Regions from separate parts of the Homo sapiens genome. Here all the other regions are linked to region 4. The links come from fine-mapping of genetic effects on gene expression. A gene starts in region 4. Each other region holds a variant in brackets. All regions are shown on one strand. Distances are between the middles of the regions.

The links.
Region 1: its variant is fine-mapped to the expression of ERI1 in blood mononuclear cells (TOPMed, PIP 0.91).
Region 2: its variant is fine-mapped to the expression of ERI1 in monocytes after triphosphate RNA (Kim-Hellmuth 2017, PIP 0.95).
Region 3: its variant is fine-mapped to the expression of ERI1 in hypothalamus (GTEx, PIP 0.98).
Region 5: its variant is fine-mapped to the expression of ERI1 in whole blood (TOPMed, PIP above 0.99).

The regions. Positions count from the first base shown.
Region 1 is chr8:8,977,643-8,982,748 of GRCh38, forward strand. LOC124901866 reads left to right here. Exons shown (of 4, transcript XM_047422504.1): 3 at 1,355-1,563. Among named protein-coding and RNA genes, the nearest start is that of ERI1, 23 kb to the right of the region's middle. RefSeq lists an enhancer at 257-551. The variant C/T (reference allele first, on the strand shown) is at 2,202.
Region 2 is chr8:9,048,548-9,053,653 of GRCh38, forward strand. It overlaps a transcript of ERI1 not described here. Among named protein-coding and RNA genes, the nearest start is that of MIR4660, 2.7 kb to the left of the region's middle. The variant C/CA (reference allele first, on the strand shown) is at 3,110.
Region 3 is chr8:9,191,367-9,196,472 of GRCh38, forward strand. The region is part of intron 2 of LOC101929128 (a long non-coding RNA gene); the gene reads left to right. Among named protein-coding and RNA genes, the nearest start is that of PPP1R3B-DT, 42 kb to the left of the region's middle. The variant A/G (reference allele first, on the strand shown) is at 2,505.
Region 4 is chr8:9,000,237-9,005,335 of GRCh38, forward strand. It overlaps ERI1 (exoribonuclease 1), which reads left to right and starts at 2,661. Exons shown (of 7, transcript NM_153332.4): 1 at 2,661-2,935. The coding sequence starts at 2,828. LOC105379227 (a long non-coding RNA gene) reads right to left here and starts at 2,506. Exons shown (of 3, transcript XR_002956680.2): 1 at 2,425-2,506.
Region 5 is chr8:8,969,526-8,974,630 of GRCh38, forward strand. The region is part of intron 2 of LOC124901866; the gene reads left to right. Among named protein-coding and RNA genes, the nearest start is that of ERI1, 31 kb to the right of the region's middle. The variant A/T (reference allele first, on the strand shown) is at 2,339.

The DNA of each region.
Region 1 (5,106 bases), 23 kb before region 4:
TGGGATTACAGGCATAAGCCACTGTGCCCAACCTGATTTAAATGAATAGTATGTATCAATTGTTAAGTGGGAAAAAAACTAAATGTTTCTATATATTTTAAATATTACTACACATTATATAAAAGTGAACTCATATGCTAATTGAAAATACACTTTATACTTGAAATTACTTAATATTGTATGCCCTGCAAAGTTGATAGAATTTTTTTTAGTTGTCTTTTTGCATCCCTTGGCTATGCTATAATGCGGCTTTGAGGATCAAATAAGGAGCTTGAGAGCATTGAAAGTACCACCAAGTTGAGAGGGGGAAGACCTCATATGCAGGAGAGGATTAACTTTGCCCATACAGGGGTCTGGCCTTTGCCCTCAGCTCCTGGAAGATAATCTCTAAACCACTGGAATATCCTGCTTGATAAGAATGTTTACCTGAGGACTTTGGAACAAGCTCCATAACCTATGCTAACAATGTAATCGATAATGCAGGCTTTGGGCCACACAGCTCCAGCTCAGCCTCCGGAAGGGCTGGAAACTGACCATGTCGATGTGACAGAACCCCAGTAAAAACTGTGGACATTGAGGCTCAGGTGAGCTTCTCTGGGTGGCAATTCATGCATATCCTCACACATCACTGCTGAGTTAGTTCTCCACTGGGAAAGAACAACTGGAAGCTTTGCACGTGGAGCTCTCCTGGACTCTTCCCCATATGCCTCTTCCCTCAGTTTATTTATTTATTTAGAGACAGAGTTTCACTCTTGTCGCCCAGGCTGGAGTGCAGTGGCGCAATCTCAGCTCACTGTAACCTCTGCCTCCCAGGTTCAAGCAATTCTCCTGCCTCAGCCTCCCAAGTAGCTAGAATTACAAGCATGTGCCACCACCAGCACACCTGGCTAATTTTTTTGTGTTTTTGTAGAGATGAAGTTTCACCATTTTGGCCAGGCTGGTCTCGAACTCCTGACCTCAGGTGATCTGCCTGCCTTGGCCTCCCAAAGTGCTGGGATTACAGGTGTGAGCCACCACGCCCCGCCCCCTCAGCTGATTTAAATTTGCATTCTTTCACTGTGATAAGCCACAACTGTGAGTATAACAGCTTTCAGTGAGTTCTGTGAGTCCTTCCAACAGATTGTCAAATCTGTGGGTGGTCTTGAGGATCCCTGAACTTGCAGTTAGTATCTGAAGTGAAAGTGGCCTTGGGGCCTCCTGAACTTCACGCCTGGCTTCTAGTCCTGACTGCCCCTAACTCTAGTTATCAACAAATCTCCATTTGCCTCCAAGCCACAGTGTCTGCTGGTTCTCTGCCAAACTCCCACCCTTCTCTGCCTTCCTTTGTGTCATTGCCTATGTTCCCTAACTCCAGGGGAAGATGAGCAGGTGCGAGACAGGGAGAAGCCATCCTACTTCTGGCTCCAGCGGCAGCGGTACCAGTGACTGTATACAACAGGGGGCCCGAGAAGCATCTGAGGCTCCAGCGGAGACACAGGATTGGCTTCCGCTCCCCAGCAGTGGGGACGTCTCCAGACATTCAGCAGCTCCAGCCCGGGGACTGCTGCAGCTTCTACCCTCTGGGTAACACCCCTCTTCTCTCTTTTGCTCTTCTAGCATACCCCACACCTTTGTCAACATCCCCTGAATTAATTCTCTCTCTGCGTTCAGTTTTCCTGAAAGGGGAAATCCCCCTTTTCTGTATAAGGGGAATAATAATAATTGTATCTGTTCTCTGTATCACTCAGAGCTGTTGTGAGCATCCACTGCTAATGGTTGATTGGTTGCTTTAAGGTTAATAAAGAATCACCTAATTTCACACTATTATGATCATGCAAATAGGGGCGTTTGCATCACAAAACAAGTATCGAGTAGGGAGGAGATTCTCTGGAACCTAGAACAAAGACAGGAAATATATTTTAAAATATTCTTACTGTATTATGATGCATTTAAGCCTTGTAGTCAAATCCCAGCTTTACCATTTATTGTCTGTGTGGCCTTAGGCAAGTTGCTGAAGTTCTCTGTGTTTTATTTCCTCATCTGTGAAATGAAGATAACAATGGACCTACCTCACTGGGTTTCTGTGGGGATTAAATACAATAACTCATACATGACCAAAAGGTTGTATAAGCAATATTCATGGGCCATGATAAGAAACCACCTTTATTTTGTTTCTCATTGTTTATTTAAAATTTCTTCAGCAGGAGAAACTCTTTTCCTGC[C/T]CCTAAATGTGAAATCAGGTGGTTCTCTAATGCTTCTGACCATCCTTAGGTAATAAAAAGTTCTACAACCACATTAAGTTGCAAAACACACTCTCATTTCTAGATTTAGAATGTCACATCCCATGTAATAATAAAAGCTTCCAGTTTTAGGGAAAGTTCCCCCTAGCTGGGGTCTTTTGCTACGGAGCCAGGTTTAGGGGGTATGATTCTCTTCTAGACGGTCACCTTACCCCTGCAGTCCCAATTTGATAACCATAGTTTCTCATCAATTGAAGTGGGTTAGGTTGGGTTAGGACAGAAAAGGTTAGGGTGTGGCCAGAAACCTTCACCTTAAGTGACACTCTTGTAGGCTATGTTCTCACTTTCTGGGTTTGGCAAATGGTTAAAGGTGACCTTTTCTTCCTGGTGCTTCAGATTTCACCGTGACTTTCAACTGTGCTTCCCATGTTGAGGGCAATGTATTTGCTCCTGGTTGCTTTTCTCTCAGCCGTGTGTGTGTGTGTGTGGGTGTGTGTGTGTGTGTGTGTGTGTGTGCGTGTGCGTGCGTGCATGCATGTGTGTGTGTAGCTATCCACCGTGCACAGAATCTCTGTTGAAGACCCCTGTTCTTCCAGGCGTCCCTTGACCAGAGTTTAAACAAGCTCCAAGCCATCCTCCTCTCCCTCATGGTCCACACTTGAATTTTTTGTCCTGACATACTTTGGGAGTGCAAGCTGACCTCAGTGCAGAAGGAACTCTCCTTCACCCTGTTAATGTCTTTTCCAGACTGCCCTTCTCTCTTGACCTCTAGATTCTCTGGATGCAAGTCAGACTGTAGTCTACTGTGCTTCCACCTCCCAGGGGACACAAACCAAGCTCTACTCGGTCCTAGTAAAGTCTCTCTTGACCTGACATGAAGAGGAGGCATCCCTACCAGTCCCCATTGCTGCATGTGATAAAGGACCCATACAGCACCTCTTTCTAGACACAGTTTCTTCAATTTTTTTCCCTCAGTTTCAACTTTTTAATATATAGCCATGTATCACTTAATGACAGGGATACTTCTGAGAAATGCATTGTTACATGATCTCATCATTGTGCGAACATCATAGAGGGCACGCACACAAACATAGATGATCTAGCCTACAACACACCTAGGCCATGTGGGACAGCCTATTGCTCTCAGGCTATGAACGTGCACAGCATGCGATTGCACTGAAAACTGTGAGCAATTTCCATACTATTAGTATTTGTATATCTAAGTATATCTGAATATTAAAAAAGGTATACTAAAGCTACAATATTATAATCTCTTGGGACCATCAACGTATGTGCAGTGTGTCATTGACTGAAAAGTCATTATTCACTGCAGGACTGTATTTCTTTTTTGTTTTTGTTTGTTTGAGATGGAGTCTCGCTCCTTTGCTCAGGCTGGAGTGCAGTGGCATGATCTTGGCTCACTGCAGCCTCCGCCGCCCAGGTTCAAGCAATTCTCCTGCCTCATCCTCCTGAGTAGCTGGGATTACAGGCATGCGCTACGCCTGACTGATTTTTGTATTTTTAGTAGAGAAAGGGTTTCACCATGTTGGCCAGGCTGGTCTTGAACTCCTGACCTCAGGTGATCTGCCTCCCTCAGCCTCCCGAAGTGCTGGGATTACAGGCGTGAGCCACTGTGTCCGGGCCAGGACTGTATTTGACTTAGTGGAAGTAGTCCAAAATTGTGTAACTAGTTTTTGACTAAATCCTACTTTATAAGCCCTCTGGGGTGGTCTGTGTGAAAACTCACTTTGGTATTTAGTATCTATTATCCTCATGCCTCAGCCAAACTGGGAAAGAAGGAGCCTCATTTTTACATCTTTTATATGTGAAGAGCACTTAGAACAGTGCTCAATAAATGTTAGCCATTGTTAACTATTGTGAACAGAAAACACAACATGTGGGTAGTTTGAAATAAGCAAGTGGAACCAAAACAAAAGGATCACCCATTATCCTTCTTTCACAGAGAGCTTTAATGAATTCGATATTGTGGGATATCTTTTCTAGCTTACTTTCAGAGTAGAAGAGATTTTCATCTATTTGGAATGGATTAGCTGCCATTCAGCTTAAGCCGAGCAGTGAACTTGTGACCTCTTATTTCAGGTTCATGATGCTTTGAAACTCAGCCACAGGAAGCAAAGATATGGGTGGCAAGGCTGGGCACAATAGCTCACGCTTGTAATCCCAGCACTTAGTGAGGTCGAGGCAGGTGGATTGTTTAAGGCCAGGAGTTCGAGACCAGCCTGAGCAACATAGAGAGACCCCCGTCTCTACAAAACAAACAAAAATAGAACAAAGCAAAAACCAGCCAGATGTGGTGGCTCATGCCCAGCTACTCCAGAGCCTGAGGTAGGAGGATCGCTTGAGCCCAGGAAATTGAGGCTGCGGTGAGCTGTGATTGCACCACTGCACTCCAGCCTGGGTGACAGAGTGAGATACTGTCTCAAAAAAAAAAAAAAAAAAGATATGGATGGCAGCAATTTTGCCCCACATGGGGCCGCAGTGAGTGTATCAGGCCATGGTGTTTCTTGGGAAGGAGAATGCAGCAATGTTAATAGTCAACCTATTTAGAAATACAGCAACTATCATTTCCTTCCACAGGTATAGTAGGGAAACTGAGTGGTGCTGTCCACACGCTTGGAACCATTCCTCCAGGGCTGACTTTTTACAGAAAAAGGCTTATTTTATTTTACTTTATTTTTCAAGACAGTTTCACTCTGTCACCCAGGCTGGAATGCAGTGGCACGATCTCCGCTAACTGCAACCTCCACCTCCCAGGCTCAATCAATCCTTCTGCCTCAGCCTCCTGAGTAGCTGAGACTACAGGCACGCACCACCATGCCTGGCTAACTTTTGTATTTTTAGTAGAGATGTGGTTTTGCCATATTGG
Region 2 (5,106 bases), 48 kb after region 4:
ACTCTTCTGGTGGGGCCAGCAGATAACAGCTGATGTGTGAAGGAGGCAGGGAAGGACATGGGGAAAAGGTCCAGTGGAAATCAAAGCCCATTGTCATAATTCTGTCCTTTGTTTTGAGACAGGATCTTGCTCCGTTGTCTAGGCTGGAGTGCAGTGGTGCAATCATAGTTGACTGCAGCCTCAATCTCCCTAGCTCAGGTGATCCTCCCACCTCAGCTTCCTGAGTAGCTGGGACCACAGGTACGTGCCCCTGGCTAATTATTATTATTTTTATTTTTAGTGGAGATGGGGTCTTGCTATGTTGCCCAGGCTGGTCTTGAACTCCTGGGCTCAAAAAATCCTCTCCCCTCAGCCTCCCAAAGTGCTGGGATTACAGGCGTGAGCCACCGCGCTCGGCCAGCATTCTGTTCTTTATGCACCCAGTCCAGGATCAAGATAGGTGGAGGTGAGCGAGATGTAAATGCAGCCGTCCACATAAATAATGTTTGAATGCCATCTTTACAAAGGGCAGCTGGGCGCAGTGGCTTACACCTGTAATTCCAGCACTTTGGGAGGTCGAGGTGGGCGGATCACCTGAGGTCAGGAGTTCTCAAGCTTGGCCAACATGGTGAAACCCCGTCTCTACTAAAAATACAAAAATTTGCCCGGCGTGGTGGCGGGAGCCTGTAATCCCAGCTACTCAGGAGACTGAGGCAGGAGAATCGCTTGAACTGAGGAGGCAGAGCTTGCAGTGAGCCGAGAGCACGCCACTGTACTCCAGCCTGGGCGACAGAGTGAGACTCCGTCTCCAAAAAAAAAAAAAAAAAAAAAAAAAAAAAGAGCAACATTAATGCAAAAAAATTAATGGTGAAAAAAAAATGTCAAGTATTGAAATATGGATAGCATCTGACAGGGTTGCTGAGGTTGGGGTGAAGGGAGTGCGGGGAGTCCTGCAACTAGACCTTTGGATCTTGTCTTTATTTGAATTTTGTGGATTTTTTGGCATTAATTTTGACTTTAAAAAAAAAAGCATGAAAATATTATTTTTCTTAAATTGTGTGCCTAACAGTGAGTCCCAATAAATACTTCCTTTAGGAAATACTTAAAGGAGTTAAACAACTTTTGACTTGCTGATCCTTCTGCATTGAGGGAGGAGACATCTCAGAAGCATGCCCTTTGAAAAGTATCAGAATACTAGGCATCCTCCTGTGCCTCCCACAACCCCCGCAAAAAAGAATACTAGCCCTCCCAAAGGCCGGATGGGATTTCTGCATCAAAGAGAAGACATCAACGGAGAGATAACCTAGTCATTCAGAGGCCGCAGGTGAGGAGAGAGGGACAGTGGACAGCAATGCCCAGAGAAGGCAATTTGAGTGCATGACCATCAGCCCATGCCAAGGGCAGCCTGCAGAGTTCCTCCCTCTGTTGATTCATTTGGCTAGGATGAGTTCTAGACCTGAACACGTCCTCCCCATCATACAGGATTACCCACTGTTACCTTGGTAAATTAACCTGTTTAACCTTCGGCTCCCTGGTCTGTAAGATAGAACTAATACTATACCCCTCACAGTGATGTTTTAAGGATAAGTGAGGTAGAATATATATAAAGCACTTTACAGAGTGCCTGGTACATTCTAAGTGGTCAAAAAAAAAAAAAAAGATAGCTATTTTCGCCTTACTATTAGATTTTCTAGGTCAAGGCTGGGCGCAGTGCCTCACACCTATAATTCTAGCACTTTGGGAGGCAGGGGCTGGTGGATCACTTGAGGTCAGGAGTTCGAGACCACCCTGGCCAACATGGTGAAACCCCATCTCTACTAAAAATACAAAATTAGCTGAGCGTGGTGGCACATGCCTGTAATTCCAGCTACTTGGGAGGTTGAGGCAGGAGAATCACTTGAACCTAGGAAGTCGATGTTGCAGTGAGCTGAGACGGTGCCATTACACTCCAGCCTGGGCAACAAGAGTGAAACTCCATCTCAAAAAAAAAAAAAAAAATTCTAGGTCTGTTCTTGAAGCTAGAACAGAAAAAGAGATTTTCTAGGTCTATTCCTGTCTGAGTCCTCATTGGGAACGTTTCACTGCTGACTGATAAGTCACCAGAGTGTAGGCCAAGCCAGTGAGCTTTGATGCGTATTAATATAAAATCTGGGAAATTGTCCCTAAAATGAGTCAGAGTTACGGAAGGAATGGAGAAGCCTGGATTCCGGTCTCAGCTTCAGGACTTGTTAGCTGTGGGAACTTAGGTCTATCCCACCACAACTCCGGGCCTCTTCCTTCTTTATGCAATAAAAATAACAGCATCATTCCTATTGCTCTTCTGCTGTGGGGACCAAAGAGATAATAAGGTGCAAAAGTGACTCAGGGCAGCACCTTTGGATGGAAATGAGCTTTGTTAAGGCGTTGTTCTTTCAGTGGGCTCATTTCTTTGTCTGGGCTGGTTCATCTGGTTCTGATCCTGAACTTAATGATCTTTGGAGGTAGATTCTTTATTCTGGACTTTAAAATGATAGCAGAAAGAATTAGCTGAAAGTAACAAATTATTATTTAAAGTAGGTACGATAGATATTAGTTCTGGTATTAATTATATTACTTTCCCATAGGGAATTGGAGGTATATATGAATATATATATGTATGTATATATGAATATATATATATATGAAAAGGAGTTTATTTCTTACAGTATGGTGGCTGAGAAGTCCACGGTTGAGGGACTGCATCTGGTGAGGGCCTTGTTGCTGGTGGGGACTCTGTGGAGTCCTGAGGTGGCTCACAGCATCACATGGTGAGGGGGCTGAAACTGCTAACATGCTCAAATTGGAGGTGTTTTTAAGAAGCATGACTAAGGGCTGGGCGTGGTGGCTCATGCCTGTAATCTCAGCATTTTGGAAGGCTGAGGCAAGCAGATCCCTTGAGGTCAGGAGTTCGAGAACAGCCTGGCCAACATGGTGAAAGCACATCTCTACTAAAAATACAAAAATAAGCAGGGCATGGTAGCATGCACCTGTAGTTCCAGCTACTTGGGAGGCTAAGGTGGAAGGATCACTTGAACCCAGGAGGCAGATGTTGCAGTGAGCCGAGACTGTACCACTGCACTCCAGGCTGGGTGACAGCGCTGAGACCCTGTCT[C/CA]AAAAAAAAAAAAAGAAGCACGACTAAGGGAAACGCCTTCCTCTTGGTCCTGCCTAGAACCACTTCTTTAGTTTTTCTGAGTTTGTATGTTTAGATCTTTGTAAGTGTCCTATGTAGTTATACATTTTCCTTGATTATGAGTTTGAATGATCACTTCCTTTTCTCAGGCGAATGCACTCACTTATGAGAATTTTCAGTCATTTGGACTATAATTGCTTAAACTTCAGACTGTAGCTGCAGAGTCGTTTTGTAGCCATCCTTAGAGAGTGAGTATGGTGTAAGGATTGAGAGCCCAGGCTCAGATGCCATGCCACAAAATAAGTGACCTTGCTCTGTTAAACGGGGGCATGCCAGCCCAGATCTCATAGGGTCGTAGTGAGAAATGAAAGAATTAATGTTTATAAAGTGCTTAAAATAGTGTTTAGTGAATAATAACCCTTCAGTAAATGTTAGCCGTTATTGTACTGACCCTATTTGTGTTAGCTCTTATTACACGGGTCTGCCCAAGGCTGAAACTTGGGGCTTATCCTCTATGGGACGTTTTCTGTGAGTTTCAGCTACTGCTCCTAGTACACTTCCTGGCAGTGTTTTTGTCTCTCTCTGTGTTCTATTTCTCTGCTTTCTTCCATTCTTCCGTGTCCATGGAAAGGACTAGATATACTTTTTTTTTTTCCAATAAATCCCCTTTAAGCAAAATTGAGTCAGGCGTCTCTTGCTACCAAAAGAACTGGACAAACTCCACTAGTTTGAGAACAGTCACCTCCTATTCTGGTGCTGATTGGTTGAACTCGCCTAGAGCACTGAGTCTCTGGGATTCTGGCAAGGTACCGTCACTGACACCAGCAGCATTCTGGGTAAGCAGCATATACCACTATTACCCGTGAACGAATCAAGGAACATGCTAGGTGCACACGTATGAAGGGACATCTTTTGCACACAGAACTGGGGCACAGTTGGCAAGGAGGTTAAATATGTTAACTTCAGGATACATTTAGGGAAACTGCAATCAAGAGATTTACCCAGAAAACACATTTCAGAACTATGGTATAATAAAAAATATGTTTGGTCTTTATCCCTGACTCCTGGCACTGAGCATCAAAGACCCTTGGAAATTTCCGAGTGGTTCGAATGTCTGTTGTTATACATGAATCCTTTCTGATCATAACTAAGTTTATGCTATTGAGGTGAATCAAGGTGGGCCCTTAAATAGTTTCAGGAGAGAGGCTGGCCACACTACAAAGACCAAGCTTATGATTAGAGGGTTGGAACTTTTGGCTCCACCCCTCAACCTCTGGAGAGAAGAGGGGAACTGGAGATTGAGTTCAATCACTAGTGGCTAATGATTTATTTATTTTTGTTTTTGTTTTTGTTTTTGTTTGAGACGGAGTCTTGCTCTGTCACCCAGGCTGGAGTGCAATGGCGCAATCTCAGCAGACTGCAACCTCTGCCTCCCGGGTTCAAGAGATTCTCCTGCCTCAGCCTCCAGAATAGCTGGGACCACAGGCATGCACTACCACACCTGGCTAATTTTCATATTTTTAGTAGAGATGGGGTTTTGCCATGTTGGCCCCACTGGTCTCGAACTCCTGACCTCAAGTGGTCCGCCTGCCTTGGCCTCTCAAATTGCTGGGATTATAGGCAAGAGCCACCGCGCCCAGCCAGTGGCTAATGATTTAGCTGATCATGCCTAAGTCATGACACCTCAATAAAAACTCTTGAGCAACAAGCTTCCAGGAGCTTCTGGGTTGATAAGCTCATGATGTGCTGGGAGGATGGCATGCCCAGAGAGGGAATGGAAGCTCCACAGCCCAGCCACTAGCCCCATACCTCGTCCTACACGTCTCTTCCATTTGGCTGTTCTTGAGTCGTATCCTTTATGGGAAACTGTATGTGAATCATCAATACAGTGCTTTGTTGAGTTCTATGAGTCACCGTAGTCTGTTAATGAACCTGAAGCAGTCATGGAAACTCCTCAATTTATAGTCAGCCAGGTAGAA
Region 3 (5,106 bases), 190 kb after region 4:
GTTTCTCTCTCCATCTCCATGCTCTGTCCCCACTGCATCCCCTGGACCCTGGAGATCTTCCTTTTTTTTATCCGCCTAGTTGCTTGCGATAGGGGCTGCTCCCTGCACCAGAGGCCCCAGGTAACACAGGCAGGTCTCTAAGACATGCTACTTAGCTTTTGTTTTCAGTTTCCATCTTGACTTCTTAAATTGCTGATATTATCACTGTCAAAAAACAAATACAAAGATATTATAAACTGATTCCAAGTCATATCATGTTTTGAAAGGAACACATGGCCGTGTGTAAGCCTTTCCACCTCCCCCTGTGTTCTTAGTTCATTTCTTGTGCCCTTAGTTCATGACTTGTGCTCTTAGTTCCTGTCTACCACATCCCATAGTGCCCTATCCCTGATTTTGTTCCAAGTGTCCCTAGCAGTGTCCCCTAGCAGTGTGCCTCATTTGTGGCTAAATGTGCCTCTGTGCTTGGAACAAACCTTTAAGTTCACCTTTCAGAACCTGACAGATTGGAGCTACCATCCTCAAGTACTTGCTTTATATCGTCATCAGCATTATTGGGCAGCTCTTTTTCTTGGATACAGATTTCTTACCCTCTAGAAGACTGTTGTTTTAGAACATTACATCTGAAATCCAATCTGGAGATTTTGATTCAGTGGGTCTGGGATGGGGCCCAGGAATTTGTAGTTTTAACAAGTATCTCGGGTGATCATTATCAGGAAAGTCTGGAAAACCCTGCCTTACAACTTTCCTGTTCTCTTTCCTGCCTCATTCACATAGACCTGCTAAGTATTTGCTGGACGTGCAAACAACCTTTGTAATGACTCTGTAGGCTTCCATTTGACAGAGTTTGAATATAATATGGTAATTTTGAACCCTCATAATCTTTTAAAGATAGAGTTTTACCAAATCAATCATTCTGTATTGACAGTTTTAATTCATTGCTTGTTCCTGCATGAACTTCTCATTGTGGAACGGTTAAGATATCTACTTTAAAAAAAAAATCTGGAATTTAGTTTGAATTTCTCATTGTGAAGCAACTACAATATCTACTTTTTAAAAATATTATTTATTTATTTATTTTTTTGAGACGGAGTCTCACTCTGTCGCCCAGGCTGGAGTGCAGTGGCGCAGTCTCGGCTCACTGCAAGCTCCACCTCCTGGGTTCACGCCATTCTCCTGCCTCAGCCTCCAAAGTAGCTGGGACCAGAGGCTCCCGCCACCACGCCCGGCTAATTTTTCTGTATTTTTTAGTGGAGACGGGACGATATCTACTTTTTTAAAAAATCTGGAATTTAGTTTGTTAGAAAAATCTGATTCTGCCGGGCTTGGTGGCTCACACCTATATCCCAGCACTTTCGGAGGCCGAGGCGGGTGGATCATGAGGTCAGGAGATCGAGACCATCCTGGCTAACACAGTGAAACCCCGTCTCTACTAAAAATACAAAAAAATTAGCCGGGTGTGGTGGCAGGCGCCTGTAGTCCGAGGTGCTCCGGAGGCTGAGGCAGGAGAAGGCGTGAACCTGGGAGGTGGAGCTTGCAGTAAGCCGAGATCTCGCCACTGCCCTCCAGCCTGGGCGACAGAGAGAGACTCCGTCTCAAAAAAATAAATAAATAAAGAAGATTCTTAGCAGCTAGTTAGAGTAGCAATTAAAGTTCTTGATTTTTTTAATTTGTTCCTTTTAATTAAAAATTTTAGGGAAGGGAGAAATGAGGAGTTCTTTCATGGGTAAGTTGTTCATGGGTAAGAATTTCAATTTTGCAAGATGAGAAGAATTCTAGAGATTGGTTGTACAACATCGTGAATACATTTAACACTGCCAAATTGTACACTTAAAAATGCCTAACGTGGTACATTTTATGTTATGCAGATTTTATCGCAATATTTTAAAAATCGGGGGAAGTGTCCACAGGTTTATGGTCTAGATAGCTGTCAGAAAATGAATATGAGTACCTACCATGTAACCAGGCACTATGCTAACAGCTTTCTGCCTTTTTCAGTAGAGTAGGTTATTTAATTCTTTTAACAGTGCTGTCTTTATTTCACAGATTGGGAAGGAGAAAGTCACTTGACTCACAGGCCAACTGCTATGGACTGAATTGTGTCTTCCCCTCATTAATATGTTGAAACCCTATCCTCCCTCCAATGTGATGGTATTTGCAGATGGGGCTTTTGGGAAGTAATGAAGTTTAGATGAGGCATGAGGGCTGGATGGATATGATCAGATGAGTGCCCAAAGAAGAGACACCAGAGAGCTAGCTTCTTCTTTCTCTTTCCACCTTTACACACTGAGAAAAGGCCAAGTGAGCACACACCAAGAAGGCAGCCATCTGCAAACCCAAGGAGAGAGTCCTCACTAGACACCCTGCTGGTACCTTGATCTTGGACTTCTAGCCTCCAGAACTGTGAGAAATAAATTCCTGTTGTTCAAGCTAGTATTAATACCTGGTGTTTTGTTATGGCAGCCTAAGTGACTAAGACACCAACTTAATTTACTTAGCCAGGGTCA[A/G]TCAGTGGTAGGGCCCAGGATTCTGACCCAGTTCTGCCTAACTCCACAATTCATGCTTTTTCTGGATATAAACATCTGCCTTCCCAGTTTCCCTGACTCTTAGAGCCGTGGAGCAGTGTGTGTCATGTGCTGCACACCCAGGCTGGAACAGCCTGTCTCCAGGTAGGTCTCTGCATAGTGTGTGACTCCATGGGGACCTCTATGCGGCCCCAGTCTTGTGAGCTGATAAAATTTATATTGGTAGCTTGGCAAATTTAACGCCTACCTCCAACAACTCTTCAGGAATGTGGGACTCTCTAAAGGGATTCATTTGCAGAGACAGAAGCCTTGGTGTGGGATGTGTTACTGTACAGTTTGTACAGTTTGCTAAACCCCTCAGCCAATACGGTTTCTATAACTGGTGCCCCCCCCACAGTTCGCTGGGGTTCACTGTTGTGCAGGTGATAGCTCCAGGTGTTGGGAATCCCTGATGAAGCCTTAGCTGGCAATGGCTGAAGGCGATATCTCTGAGATGTCCGGTCAGGACCTTCCTCTCTGTTGCCATGGCTGTGTCTCACTGCCGCGCCTCTCCTCTGTTCCCTGCAGGGTAGAGTCTGGATGCTTTTATCGACATATTGGAGTTTTTCTACTAAGTGCAGAAACGTCTCTAGATCTGAGCACAGTCACATCAAGCTTAGATTTTAATGTCCTGGTTTCATTAATTTCTATTTCAGTTATTCCAGGGGCTGCTCTCCCTCACTGGGTTCTTTTCAGATGTGTACAATGGCTAGAACTTCTTTCTGTTCTTGCTGCAATATGCCAGCCGCATTTCCTTTTACACGGGCGTCTCCTTTTGTCTCCTGTCTGTGGGTACTGCAGTAGCAAAAGGGGCAATCTGTGGTCTTTTCTCCATAACCCCTCCTGCAGAGAACAACTTTCAGGCTGGGGGTTTCCTGAAACATAGATTGCACTGGACAGAAGGACTTAACATGTCTTTGTTGCACCCTAAAACATGACCTTTAGTTTCTCTCTGCTTAGAATCTATATGCTGTGCCACGATTTTTCTACCATGATTTTATCTTGTAGAATTCACTTTACCTCTCTGGGTTCCAAGTCCTCATTTATTAAATGAAGATCCCATTCTAAGATTGTGCCAATTTTCCTATTTCCAAATTCATCAGCACCGAGAGTGCCTGTCCTTACTGTGGAGGTCTGGCGATAGAGAGCAGGTTCTCCCTGCAATATTGACACAGGCCCGCCTCTGCTGTGGGGGCCTGAACACTGGCATCCCTAGCTTCTCCTCGGGGCCAAAGATGACTTGAGCCTTCCCAGTGGAGGTAGAAGCTGGAGCTTCCTTTCAGGAAGTGGCTCATAGTGACAGACTCAAAGATCAGGAGGGTCTTGTAGTTCCATCATGTTGACAAGGATTATAGGAGCTGTAATTATACAAGCTGCCCCAAAGTCCTGATTTCAGTCCTCATTAAGTCCCGACTTCTAAAATGAGGTTAAAATTATATCATAAGGGCTGGGCGCGGTGGCTCACGCCTGTAATCCCAGCACTTTGGGAAGCTGAGGTGGGTGGATCACTTGAGGTCAGGAGTTCGAGACCAGCCGGGCCAACAGAGTGAAACCTCATCTCTACCAAAGACACAAAACTTAGCCAGGCATGGTGGTACATGACTGTAATCACAGCTACTGGGGAGGCTGAGGCAGGAGAAGTGCTTGAACCCAAGAGGCAGAGGTTGCAGTGGGCTGAGATCGTGCCTTTGCCCTCCAGCCTAGGCGAAGAAGTGAGATTTTGTTAAAAAAAAAAAATAAAAATAAATATATATATATTAGGCTTGGCATCTTGGCATGGTGGCTCACACCTATAATCCCAGCACTTTGGGAGGCCAAGGTAGGAGGATCCCTTCAGGCCAAGAGTTTGAGACTGGCCTGGGCAACGTAGTGAGACCCCATCTCTAAAACCAAAAATTAGCTAGGCATGGTGGTGCATGCCTGAAGTCCCAGCTACTTGGGAGGCTGAGGTGGGAAGATTGCTTGAGCTCAGGAGTTTGAGGTTATAGTGAGCTATGATCATACTACTGCACTCCAGCCTAGGTGACAGAGTGAGACCCTGTCTCTAAATAAAAATAAAATAATAAATCAATTGTATCATAAAAAACTAAACTTGCCCTCACATAACTCTCTCTTCTGCTGACAATCAATACTTTCTTAGACAACGTTTTCTTCAGTTCCAGCTGGCTTTTGAGGAGCAAATTTTTCTCCCCATAGAGTTTTAAGAAATGCTTCCTCAGCAAATTGAGAAGAAGAAAGTAAAGCAAATGTTTTCTCTAAGTGACTCCTTCCCAAATTCTAGTTTAAGAGCCTTTGTAAATCAGATGGAAGCTTTAGAAAAATGGCAGCAGATAAAAGCCTGCAGGATGACTCCAAAGTAGTCAAAGCCACCTAAACACGTGCATTGATGATGGGTGTGCCTATGTTATAGGTCCCATGGATCCCTGGGAGACTCAGGAAGGAGTCAGTTCTCAGTTATAGAATGTTAGAGACCACTTAGGCTTTATTTTATTATTATTATTGAGATGGGGTCTCACTCTGTCACCCAGGTTGGAGTGCAGTGGTG
Region 4 (5,099 bases):
TGGAGGTATGTATGGTTAGAAAGGGCTACTTAACCCCATCAAAGATTATTGTTATTGGAATTATGCCCTATCTCAATTGCCTATTTAACAAAGCAAATAATCTAGAATGGGCAAGACTTAAGACAATTATGATTGGTTACTAAGTGTTCACTTAACTTCCAAACTGGCATATCTTCTGAGTAGATGGATTCAGCACAACTTCAATTCTATGCTCCTGGGTTGCAATCCTCAAACTTGGACCAAATAAACTCTCTAGTTATATTAATTTTGCCTCAGCTTCTACCTTTTAGGTCAATAGTATTAAGCCTCTTCAAGTGGTCCTGAAGTATTAAGCCTCTTTAAGTGGTTACTGAAGCTGTATTCATCTTTTTTCTGTGTGTGTGTGTGTCATTTTGTATTGTTTCTGTTGCTATATCTTTGAATTTATTTACCTTTTTCTCTGCATTGCTTAATGCGCTAGCAATCCCATCCAAAGAAATTTTTATTTCAAATATTTTTCACCTCCATCCAGAAATTTGATTTTTCAAAAATCTTTCCAGTTTCTCTCCTATCATGTCTTCCTTTAAATCTTTGAGCATATTCATAACAGGTGTTTAAAATCCTTGTCTGTTAATTCCATCATTTTTATCATTTTGGGGTTTGTTTCTATGAACTTCGTGAGATATTTTCTTACCACTTGGTCTCTCTCTCTCTCTTTTGAGACAGAGTCTTACCCTGTCACCCAGGCTGGGTTGTGGTGGTGCAATCATAGGTCACTGCAGCCTCAAACTCCTGGGCTCAAGCAATCCTCCCGCCTCAGCATCCCCAAGTGCTGCGTGTCTTTCAATTTTTGACTGGATGTCTCACATTTTGAATTTAATGTTGTTGAATCCTGGATTTTACTGTAGTCTTTCAGAGAGTTTTAGAATTTGTTCTTACAGGTAATTAGGTTACTTACAGAGCAGTTTGATCCTTTCAGGGCTTGTTTTAAGGCTTTTGAAGAATCTACAGTAGTTTATGTTCTGGGTCCTGCAGTCTACGGTTATTATATCTCACTAAGGCATGACACTTTCGTAACCACCCAAAAGGTTCATCTTGCCTACTGCCTAGACAGAGTCGATTTATCAAGACAGGGGAATTGCAATAAAGAGCAATTCATGCAGAGCTGGCAGTGCAGGAGACCTGAGTTTTATTAATCAAATCAGTCTCCCTGAGCATTTGGGGATCAGAGTTTTTAAGGATAATTGGGTGGGTGAGAAGCCAGTGAGATGGGAGTGGTGACTGGTTGGGTAGGAGATGAAATCATAGGGAGTCGATGCTGTCCTCTTGCACTGAGTCAGTTCCTCCCGTGGGGGACACAAAATCAGATGAGCTAGTTTATCCAAGATCAGGTGAGTCAGTTTATCAATCTGGGAGGTGCCAGCTGATCCATCAAGTGCAGGGCCTGCAAAATATCTCAAGCACTGATCTTAGATTTTACAATAGTGATATTATCCCCAGGAGCAATTTGGAGAGGGTTAGAATCTTGTAGCCTTCAGCTGCATGAGTCCTAAATCATAATTTCTAATCTTTCGGCTAATTTACTAGTCCTACAAAAGCAGTCTAGTCTCAAGAAGAGGGTTTATTTTGAGAAAGGGCTATCACCTTTGTTTTAAACTATAAGCTATACACTAAGTTCCTCCCAGTGTTAGTTTGGCCTACGCCTAGGAATGAATAAGGATAGCCTGGAGGTTAAAAGCAAGATGGAGTTGGTTAGGTCTGATCTCTTTCACTGTCTCAATGATAATTTTGCAATGGCAGTTTCACATCTGAGGTTTCTATTGCGTGTTCCATGGTATTCAATAATCTCTTCACTCTGGTTGCTGGGAGCTCAAATGATTCCCAGTTCTGTGTGACCTCTCACCATTGTTTGGTGTACTGCTCCCCAGTAATTGTTCTTTCCTGGCCTTGTGGAGTTTCACGTTTTTTATTCAGTTAAAGATTCAAGGTACTCCTAAGCAGATTTCTGAAGCTCTTTTTCCATGTAATTCCCTCCTCTCCAGAATTCTGCCCTACAAATTCCAACCGACTTGGCCTACCCCAATTTCGTCAACTCCAATCTCTGTCTTTTCAACCCAGGAGATCCTAGGTTTCCATATGATTTCCTTTCATCGCACCACAGACTGGAAATCGCCTCTGGGCAAAAGGGCAGGATGATATACGGCTCCTTTTATTTCTTTTCTCTCAGGTAAAACAGTCCACAGCTGTCCGTTGTCCAATGTCTGAATAGGTGTCTCCTATATTTTGTTCCGTTTTCTAATTGTTTATAGTGGGACACTAAGTCCCGACCCATTTTCTTTTCTTGCCCAGAGTGGAAGTTTTAGGAAACTCCTTATGGAAAATGTGAATTGTTTTATTATTTTTTATGGTCGAAAACATCTTTCTCTATGATATCTTCCCACTCACCCTACTTTTTTCCTTCTCAGGAAACACTGACGGGAACACACGTGCCGGTGCTACCCTCCAGTGACTGGACTAGATCCTTGCGCAACTTCAACCCGCGCTAGCTCCGCCTACGGCCGGCCACGCCCCGTCTTCTCACCGGCGCGCCTCCCTCTTGTTCGTCCTCCCTCCCCCTGTGGACTGCGGCGCTGGCGTTCCGCGCACGCCGGCTCACTGCGCCTGCCCGGCGTGTGGACGCCACACGCTCCCGGAAGTGGGAGGTGGCCGCTGGAGTTTGTGTGGCCGCCGCCGCGGGAACGCGAGCCCGGTAATTTTTCAACGGAGAAAGGCGAGGCTTTCGGGCTCTGCAGAGTGAGAGTTAGCAAGTGTCCGGCTCCAGCAACTCTCCTCTGGCGTGACAGCCGGCATGGAGGATCCACAGAGTAAAGAGCCTGCCGGCGAGGCCGTGGCTCTCGCGCTGCTGGAGTCGCCGCGGCCGGAGGGCGGGGAGGAGCCGCCGCGTCCCAGTCCCGAGGTGAGGAGTCGACCCGCGCCTGGCTGTTGGCGCCAGCTGCCCCGTCCCCAAAGCGCCCTCGGCACCCCTTTCTTCTCAGGTGTCCCGCAGAAGGTGCAGCTGTGCGCCCTTGGACCCCAGCCTCTTCCTCGGTGCCCAGCTCCCTGGCTTTATCCTCGGGTGGGTGTCTTGGAGCCCCCTCAGGGCCGAATCACTCTCTGGGAGGGAGGAAATCGTCAAGACCAGTTCTGTCTACAGTGGGTTAACAGGTTCTAAGAGGGAGTTTTGCTTTAAACTTAATTCTGTGTTCACGGTTGCTGTTGTCACTCCATGTAGCCGTTATGGGTAGTTTGCAAGGCTTTATGTTTTTAAAATCTCACCATATACGCTAGGTATGTCACTTCATGCCTGTTTTTAAAAAAAGAAAAAATTTAAAAAGCACTCACCAGCATCCCTGTCTCTGTACCTGTTAAGTGGAGCTTCGTCTTAGCTGCTTTTGCTCATTAACTGGTGTCTCATATAACCATAGTATAAGATTGAATGAATCATTTTGACATCTCATCGGTTGAACTTAGTTACAGTGGCAAAGTTGTAGAACAGTCTTAAAACTTATTTAACGAATGTTAATTGTTGACTAGCGCTGCGGATTGTAAGTGATTGAATACTAAAATTGATCTTTTCCTAATAATAAACATGTTGAACACTTCGTAAAGCTTCATAAAGTGCGTATTTGCAAGAGGCCTCCTAACTCTTGCTCCTTCCGTCCACAGTCAGTTTCCATCTGGCAGCTAGAATGAGCTTTTCAATAACATGAATTTGGCTTATTCCCCTCCTGAGTCACTTCCATTTGCTGCTCTGCGGGGTCGGGTGCCTGCCTCCCTTGGTAATTGCATCTCACACAGTTTTTTCCCTTTTGTTCCCAGTGCCCCTCGCTGCCTTGTGTTCTTTGACATTGGAAAGAAGGTCTCGTTAAGGATCTCTGTATGTTCCTTTTGCCCTGTGTGCACTTCCTTTGGATCCTTGCAATTATCTTTCTCCTTCTAAGGTTGTTATTTCAAAGAGTACTTGCACATCCCTTCTCTTGTAAAGAACCACTCTTCCACCTGCCTCCCTCTTCAGCCTGAGATACGTTGTCAATCTCATCCTGTAAGTGGGTTTTAAAATAAATTTCGAAGTTTATTTTTAGTAAAAGAAGTGTGTTTGAATATGCTTCTTTATATTTGAAAGTCTTGACACTTTTACAGCTACTTAAGGCCTAGGTCTCTGTTCCAAATTGGCTTTAGTGACGGTAGTAATTGTTAAAAACTTACTGTTGCATGCTCTTTATAGTGATACTTTTTTTTTTTTTTTTTTTTTTTTTTACAAAAAGCCGGTCGTAGTTGCCCTCTCCCGTAGTCCCAGCTACTGGGGAGGCTCAGTGGGGAGGATCACCTGAGCCCATGGGTGGAGGCTGCAGTGAGCTGTGATCGTGCCACTGCACTCCAACCTGGGTGACAGAGTGAGACCCTGTCTCAAAAAATAATAGTAATGATACTTTTTTTTTTTTTTTTTTGGAGACGGAGTTTCGTTCTTGTTGCCCAGTCTGGAGTGCAATGGCATGGTCTCAGCTTACTGCAACCTCCCGCCTCCCGGATTCAAGTGATTCTCGTGCCTCAGCCTCCCTAGTAGCTGGGATTACAGGAACCCACCACCACGCTTGGCTAGTTTTTGTATTTTTAGTAGAGATGGGGTTTCACCATGTTGGCCATGCTGGTCTGGAACTCCTGACCTCAGGTGATCCGCCCACCTCGGCCTCCCAAAGTGCTGGGATTACAGGCAATGAGCCACTGCGCCTGGCCATGATACAGTGTTTTTCAATCTGGGCCAAAGTTTTTTGTTGAATTCAGGTGGTAAATTTCCATTATCTCTAATGCTAGTTGTCTTTGTAAACTAGTAGAAGCTATTGCATATTTATATTTTTAATAAGTAGGTTCAGATTTCATCAGAACTCTCCTTTTGGAAGAACGTCAATCAAGAAAAATTCTAAGTTTTTTTTCAGTGTGCAGATGCAGAGGTTTTCCTTTTCTTTTTTTAAAAGGTAGTACCTAGATTTTTGGCAGCAGAATAATAGCATTTCCAGAACATGTTTTCAAAATGTTCTCTATACAGAAAAAGTTTTATTTGACAAGCAGTTACTTTGTAGCTT
Region 5 (5,105 bases), 31 kb before region 4:
CTGTTCTAAAAGATGGAACTTGGTTGGGTGTGGTGGCTCATGCTTGTAATCTCAACACTTTGGTATGCTGAGATGGGAGGATTGCTTGATTGAGCCCAGGAGTTCAAGAGCAGCCTGAGCAACATAACAACACCCAGTCTCTACCAAAAATTTTGTAAATTAGCTGGGCATAGGGCATGTGACTGTACTCCCAGGAGGCTGAGCTGTACTTATTCATAGAGGGTCTTGCCTGCAAGTTGTCCAGGTTAATGGCATTTTTGAACAAAGAATTGGACAAAATGCACAGCAAAGCAAGGAAAGAATGAAACAAAGAAAGCAGAGATTTATTGAAAGTAAAAGTACACTTCGCAGTGTGGGAGCAGTTGGAGCAGCAGCTCAAGGGCCCAGATGCAGAATCTTCTTGGGTTCAAATACCCCCTAGAGGTTTCCCATTGGCCACTTGGTGTTCACCTCATGTAAATGGAGCGGTGGCTCACAATCAGTGTGATTGGTTACGGACAGTAACCGATCAGAGGCTGAAGTGAAGTTACAAAGGTCACACTCCTATGCACACATCTGATTGGTCTCGCAAAGCTAACAATCAGAGGGTAAAGCGAAGTTACAAAGTTGCTCTTCTATGCAAACCAAGACTTGGCTGGCAATCAGAGATTGGTCTTGGAAAGCTAACAGTCAGAGGCTAAAGTAAAGTTTCAAAGTTACACTCCTATGCAAACGTCTGATTGGTTGCAATCAGAGGTACTTTCAATTTCCCATCTGCCCGAGCAGAAAAGACGGGTTTGCAAAGGGAGTAGCCTCTGGTCCTTGTCACTTAGGTGTGGAAAGTTAGGGTTTTCCTTCCAGGGCCTATTGTTCTACCTCAGGAAGACTGATTGAGCTAAAGAGCGAGGCTGCTTTGAGCCATGATCACGCCACTGCACTCAAGCCTGGGTGACAAAGCAAGACCCTGCCTAGCAAAAAAAAAGAAAAAGAAAAAGATATAACTCTTTCTCCAACAGGAACATTATGAATTTTATTCACTGACTTGAGATTTGAGTCCAAGAAGGAAGGTGAAGTTGCTGAAAAACCAGACTCACTTAAAAGTCAAAAGCCGAGCCAGGCATAGTGGCTCACACCTGTAATCCCAGCATTGTGGGAGGCCAAAGTAGTTGGATCACCTGAGGTCAGGAGTTCAAGACCAGCCTGGCCAACATGGTGAAAACGCGTCTCTACTAAAAATACAAAAATTAGCCTGTCATGGTGACAGGTGCCTGTAATCCCAACTACTTGGAAGTCTGAGAATTGCTTGAACCCGAGAGGTGGAGGTTGCAGTGAGCTGAGATCACACCATTTCACTCCAGCCTGGGTGACAAGAATGAAACTCCGTCTAAAAAAAAAAAAGAAAAAAGAAACAAAAAAGTCTAAAGCTGGTAAACTAATCCCAATGAGAAGCTTGGCATTGAAATGATGAGTTTATTCACAGAGAAAAAGAGCAAAGTCTCCAAAAGTTTTCTAGGCATTTTATAACTGAGCTGGCCCCAAGTGCAGGTGCAGGAGCTCTTAGAAGCTCAGCCACGGGGAATAACACTGCAGGAAATACATGTCCAGGGATGAGCTGAATGAAATGGGTGGGATGGGATCCAGTATCCCATCTCTTCAACTTCGAACAGCTGCCCGCCTGTAGAAACCGTTGCAAGCTAGCTTGAGGACAGTATCCCTTCTGCAGGGCTGCATGCCGTTTGCTTGTCTGGCAATCCCATAACTCATAGGCAGATGCTGTATGCCATATACCAAATAGCAAAGTGGAGATGTGCAGGGTAGGAAAACTGGATTGCGAGGAAGGAGATGAGGCAATCATTCTCAACCTTGGCTGCACGACAGAATCTCTCGGGAAGACTTTATAAAATATGAATGCCAGGGCCCATTCCTATGGTGTTCTTTTTTTCTTGATAAATGTTAGCAATGGTTTTATTAGTCTTATGTCCTTGCTTTTGTGTACTATCTGTCCCCAGGGAGATTATTTTTGAGAATTACCCCTAAATTTTCATTGTTTTCTCCCTTCAAATTCAGTGCTTGTGAGACACATTATGAAAAAGAGAAGCGACTCCGCGTTTGTTTAATGCATTGCTTCCTCCACTTAACCTCTTGCTTATTGGAGCTAAAAGCAGATTCTGTAGTCCTTATCCCCTAGTGGCTCTAATCCCCACTCTCCTAACCAGGAATTTACCATTGTAGTTTCAATGCAATGGCCGTTTCATTTTCTTTTTCCATCCTAATCCAGTAGTTAGCTTAACTTGCTCTACAGTGAAATACACGCATGGTATTCTGACTTAATTGACCGAGTGCATGACCCTGGCATCAA[A/T]AATTTTTAAAGGCTGATAAGGTGATTCTAATGTGCATTTGGGGTGGAGAATACCAATCTGGCAGCTGGAAACAAAAGAAGAGTGAACATTTTCCCACTGGGCGCTTCCAGAAAGTAATTAAATACATATAAGTGCTGGGAAAAAAGGAGGCTAAGTCCTGAGATATTAACTAGTTATATGATGTTGAGCTGGCTATCTTATCTAAGACTCAGTGTCATCTTTAAAAGGAGGGAAACTATAGCACCAGCCATATACAGGTGTGAAGATTAAATGAGCTAGTATGTGTAAATCACTTAGCATGGTGCTTGACAGTGCCCAACAGACAGGCCCAAGGCATAGTGGCTCATGCATGTGGTCCCAGCGCTTTGGGAAGCTGAGGCAGTAGGTTCGTTTGAGCCCAGGAGGTTGAGGCTGCAGTGAGCCATGATCGTGCCACTGCATTCCAGCCTGGGAGACAGAGAGAGACTGCATCCCCCCCAAAAAAAAAAAAAAAACAGTTGGCTGGGCACGGTGGTTCATGCCTGTAATCCCAGCATTTTGGGAGGCCGAGGTGGGCGGATCACCAAGGTCAAGAGTTCAAGACCGGCCTGACCAACATGGCAAAACCCCGCCTCTACTAAAAATACAAAAATTAGGCTGGGCACTATGGCTCATGCCTGTAATCTCAGTACTTTGGGAGGCCAAGGCGGGTGGATCACAAGGTCAGGAGATCAAGATCGTCCTTGCCAACATGGTGAAATCCCATCTCTACTAAAAATACAAAAATTAGCCATGCGTGGCTGTGCACACCTGTAGTCCCAGCTACTTGGGAGACTGAGGCAGGAGAATTGCTTGAACTCGGGAGGTAGAGGTTGCAGTGAGCCAAGATTATGCCACTGCACTCCGGCCTGGGCGACAGAGCAATACTCCTTCTCAAAAACAAACAAACAAAGTGCCCAGTAAATGACTGGTGTTTCGTCATCATCCTCATTGTCATTTTAGAGAATAAAAACATTGGATTAGAAGTTTATATACAACATATTTGCCTCCATAAATAAGTGCAAATTCTGAAATTCAAAGCAAAAAATTTTTTAAAAATCATTTTATATTTGCTGAGAGCTTTTCCTTTGAACATAGATTGGGGGAGGCAGTTTCATGGATTTCCATGTTCATAACTGGATCTGTCCCCAGTCTTTTTCTGGCATTCCCAGCCTTGAACCGCGTCTTGTTAATCCTCCTCCACAAAAGCCCATACTAGCTTTTATTTATTTTCTCTCAGAATATTCCATGTCTATAATTTCTGTTGATTTATGCTCTATAAATACTAATTCCAGACTTGTGTAGCCAGCACTTTCTGGCCCCAAGCGCTCCACAAAATGGACTCAGATTGTCTTCTTGTATAACGCACAGTCTACCAGTTTGGTGAAAGGTGATAAAGTGATCTGTGGAGCTCAGATGGAAAGAAGCGTCTGGGAGAGCCAGGCTCCTAATCACTTAAATCCTTTCCAAACGTGGGGAGGGGGGTGGTGCGAGGGAGAATGAGAGCAGACAAAGCTGGCTGTCATTGCTATGATTAGGCTTTCGCTCTAAGCCTCCAGAGAGTTGTGAGCTGGGGTAAATGATGTGAAGGATTCATTTCGCCTGGATAGAGATAGGCTCAAGGAGCTGCACCAGTAAAAGTGGGATGAACGGCGTCTTAGACTCCCTTTCCTCTAAGCCCAGCGCAAGCCACAGCCTCGTGAACAGCTCAATGTAATAAGACAAATCCAAGGAAAAAGAAGGAATACGCTTCCTCCTGAGAGCTAGATTGGAGTGTCTCTAATCCCCTCAAACTGTTATCTGTCAGGAATCTTATTTGTGAGCAACAGAATCCAACTCCAATAACTTTGGAAGGAAGAAATTTAGCAGAAGGCTATTCAGGAGCTCCGGCTCGTGCTGAGCAGATGGGAGAAGCAGGCTTAAAGTCAAAGCTTTGGTGGCAGGCAGGAGCAGAAGTCAGTCAGTGAGGACACCAGTGCAGTGGGCATTGGACACAAGACCACAATGCTCACCATGGCTGATGCTGGCACGAGATAGTGGTTGCTGATGCAGGCATCGCTACCTCTGCACTTGGGAACTTGCCAGTACTCCCCCATCTGCCACCAACCACCTATCCGTGGTTTCGCCACCACCCACCTATCCGTGGTTTCTCCACCACCCTGCTTCCTGGGATGCAGCAACCCCCAAACAGATGCAGTTTTGGGCCAGCGTTATGGAAGAGAAAGCAAATCCCCCAAATGTCTGAATCACAAACACAGAGACCTCACCCCCGTGACAGTGGAAACAAATGCCCTGGCCTCTGACCCCTACAGATCCGCGTTCCTGCCCCTAAACGGTGCAGTGAGGGGAGAGCTGGGCTGCAGAACAGGTGGAGAGAAGAACGTGGTGTGTCCCCTAGGGGTCAGTGCTAGGACATATTGTCTCCAGGGTCTCGTGCCTTTCTGTTTGGTTGAGGGCAACATTTCTCAGAAGTATGTGGATACCTGGGATTTTAAGAGGGTATCATGGCAACTCTTTCACTCTCTAGTTTTAGAGGTGATCTTGACAAATGTCTCTCACCTGAGAGCCTTTGAGTATGTACCAACTAACCATATGGAGCAATTGGGGGATCAGATAAAAAGGCTGATGACACGGTCACTCTATTGAGTTAGCACCAGCTGAGCACAACAGCCCACCATGTTGTCTCTGACTACCATGGAGCATGGCAGGCTGCTTGTTGTCACCCCACATCCATTTTCCCCTTCTTCA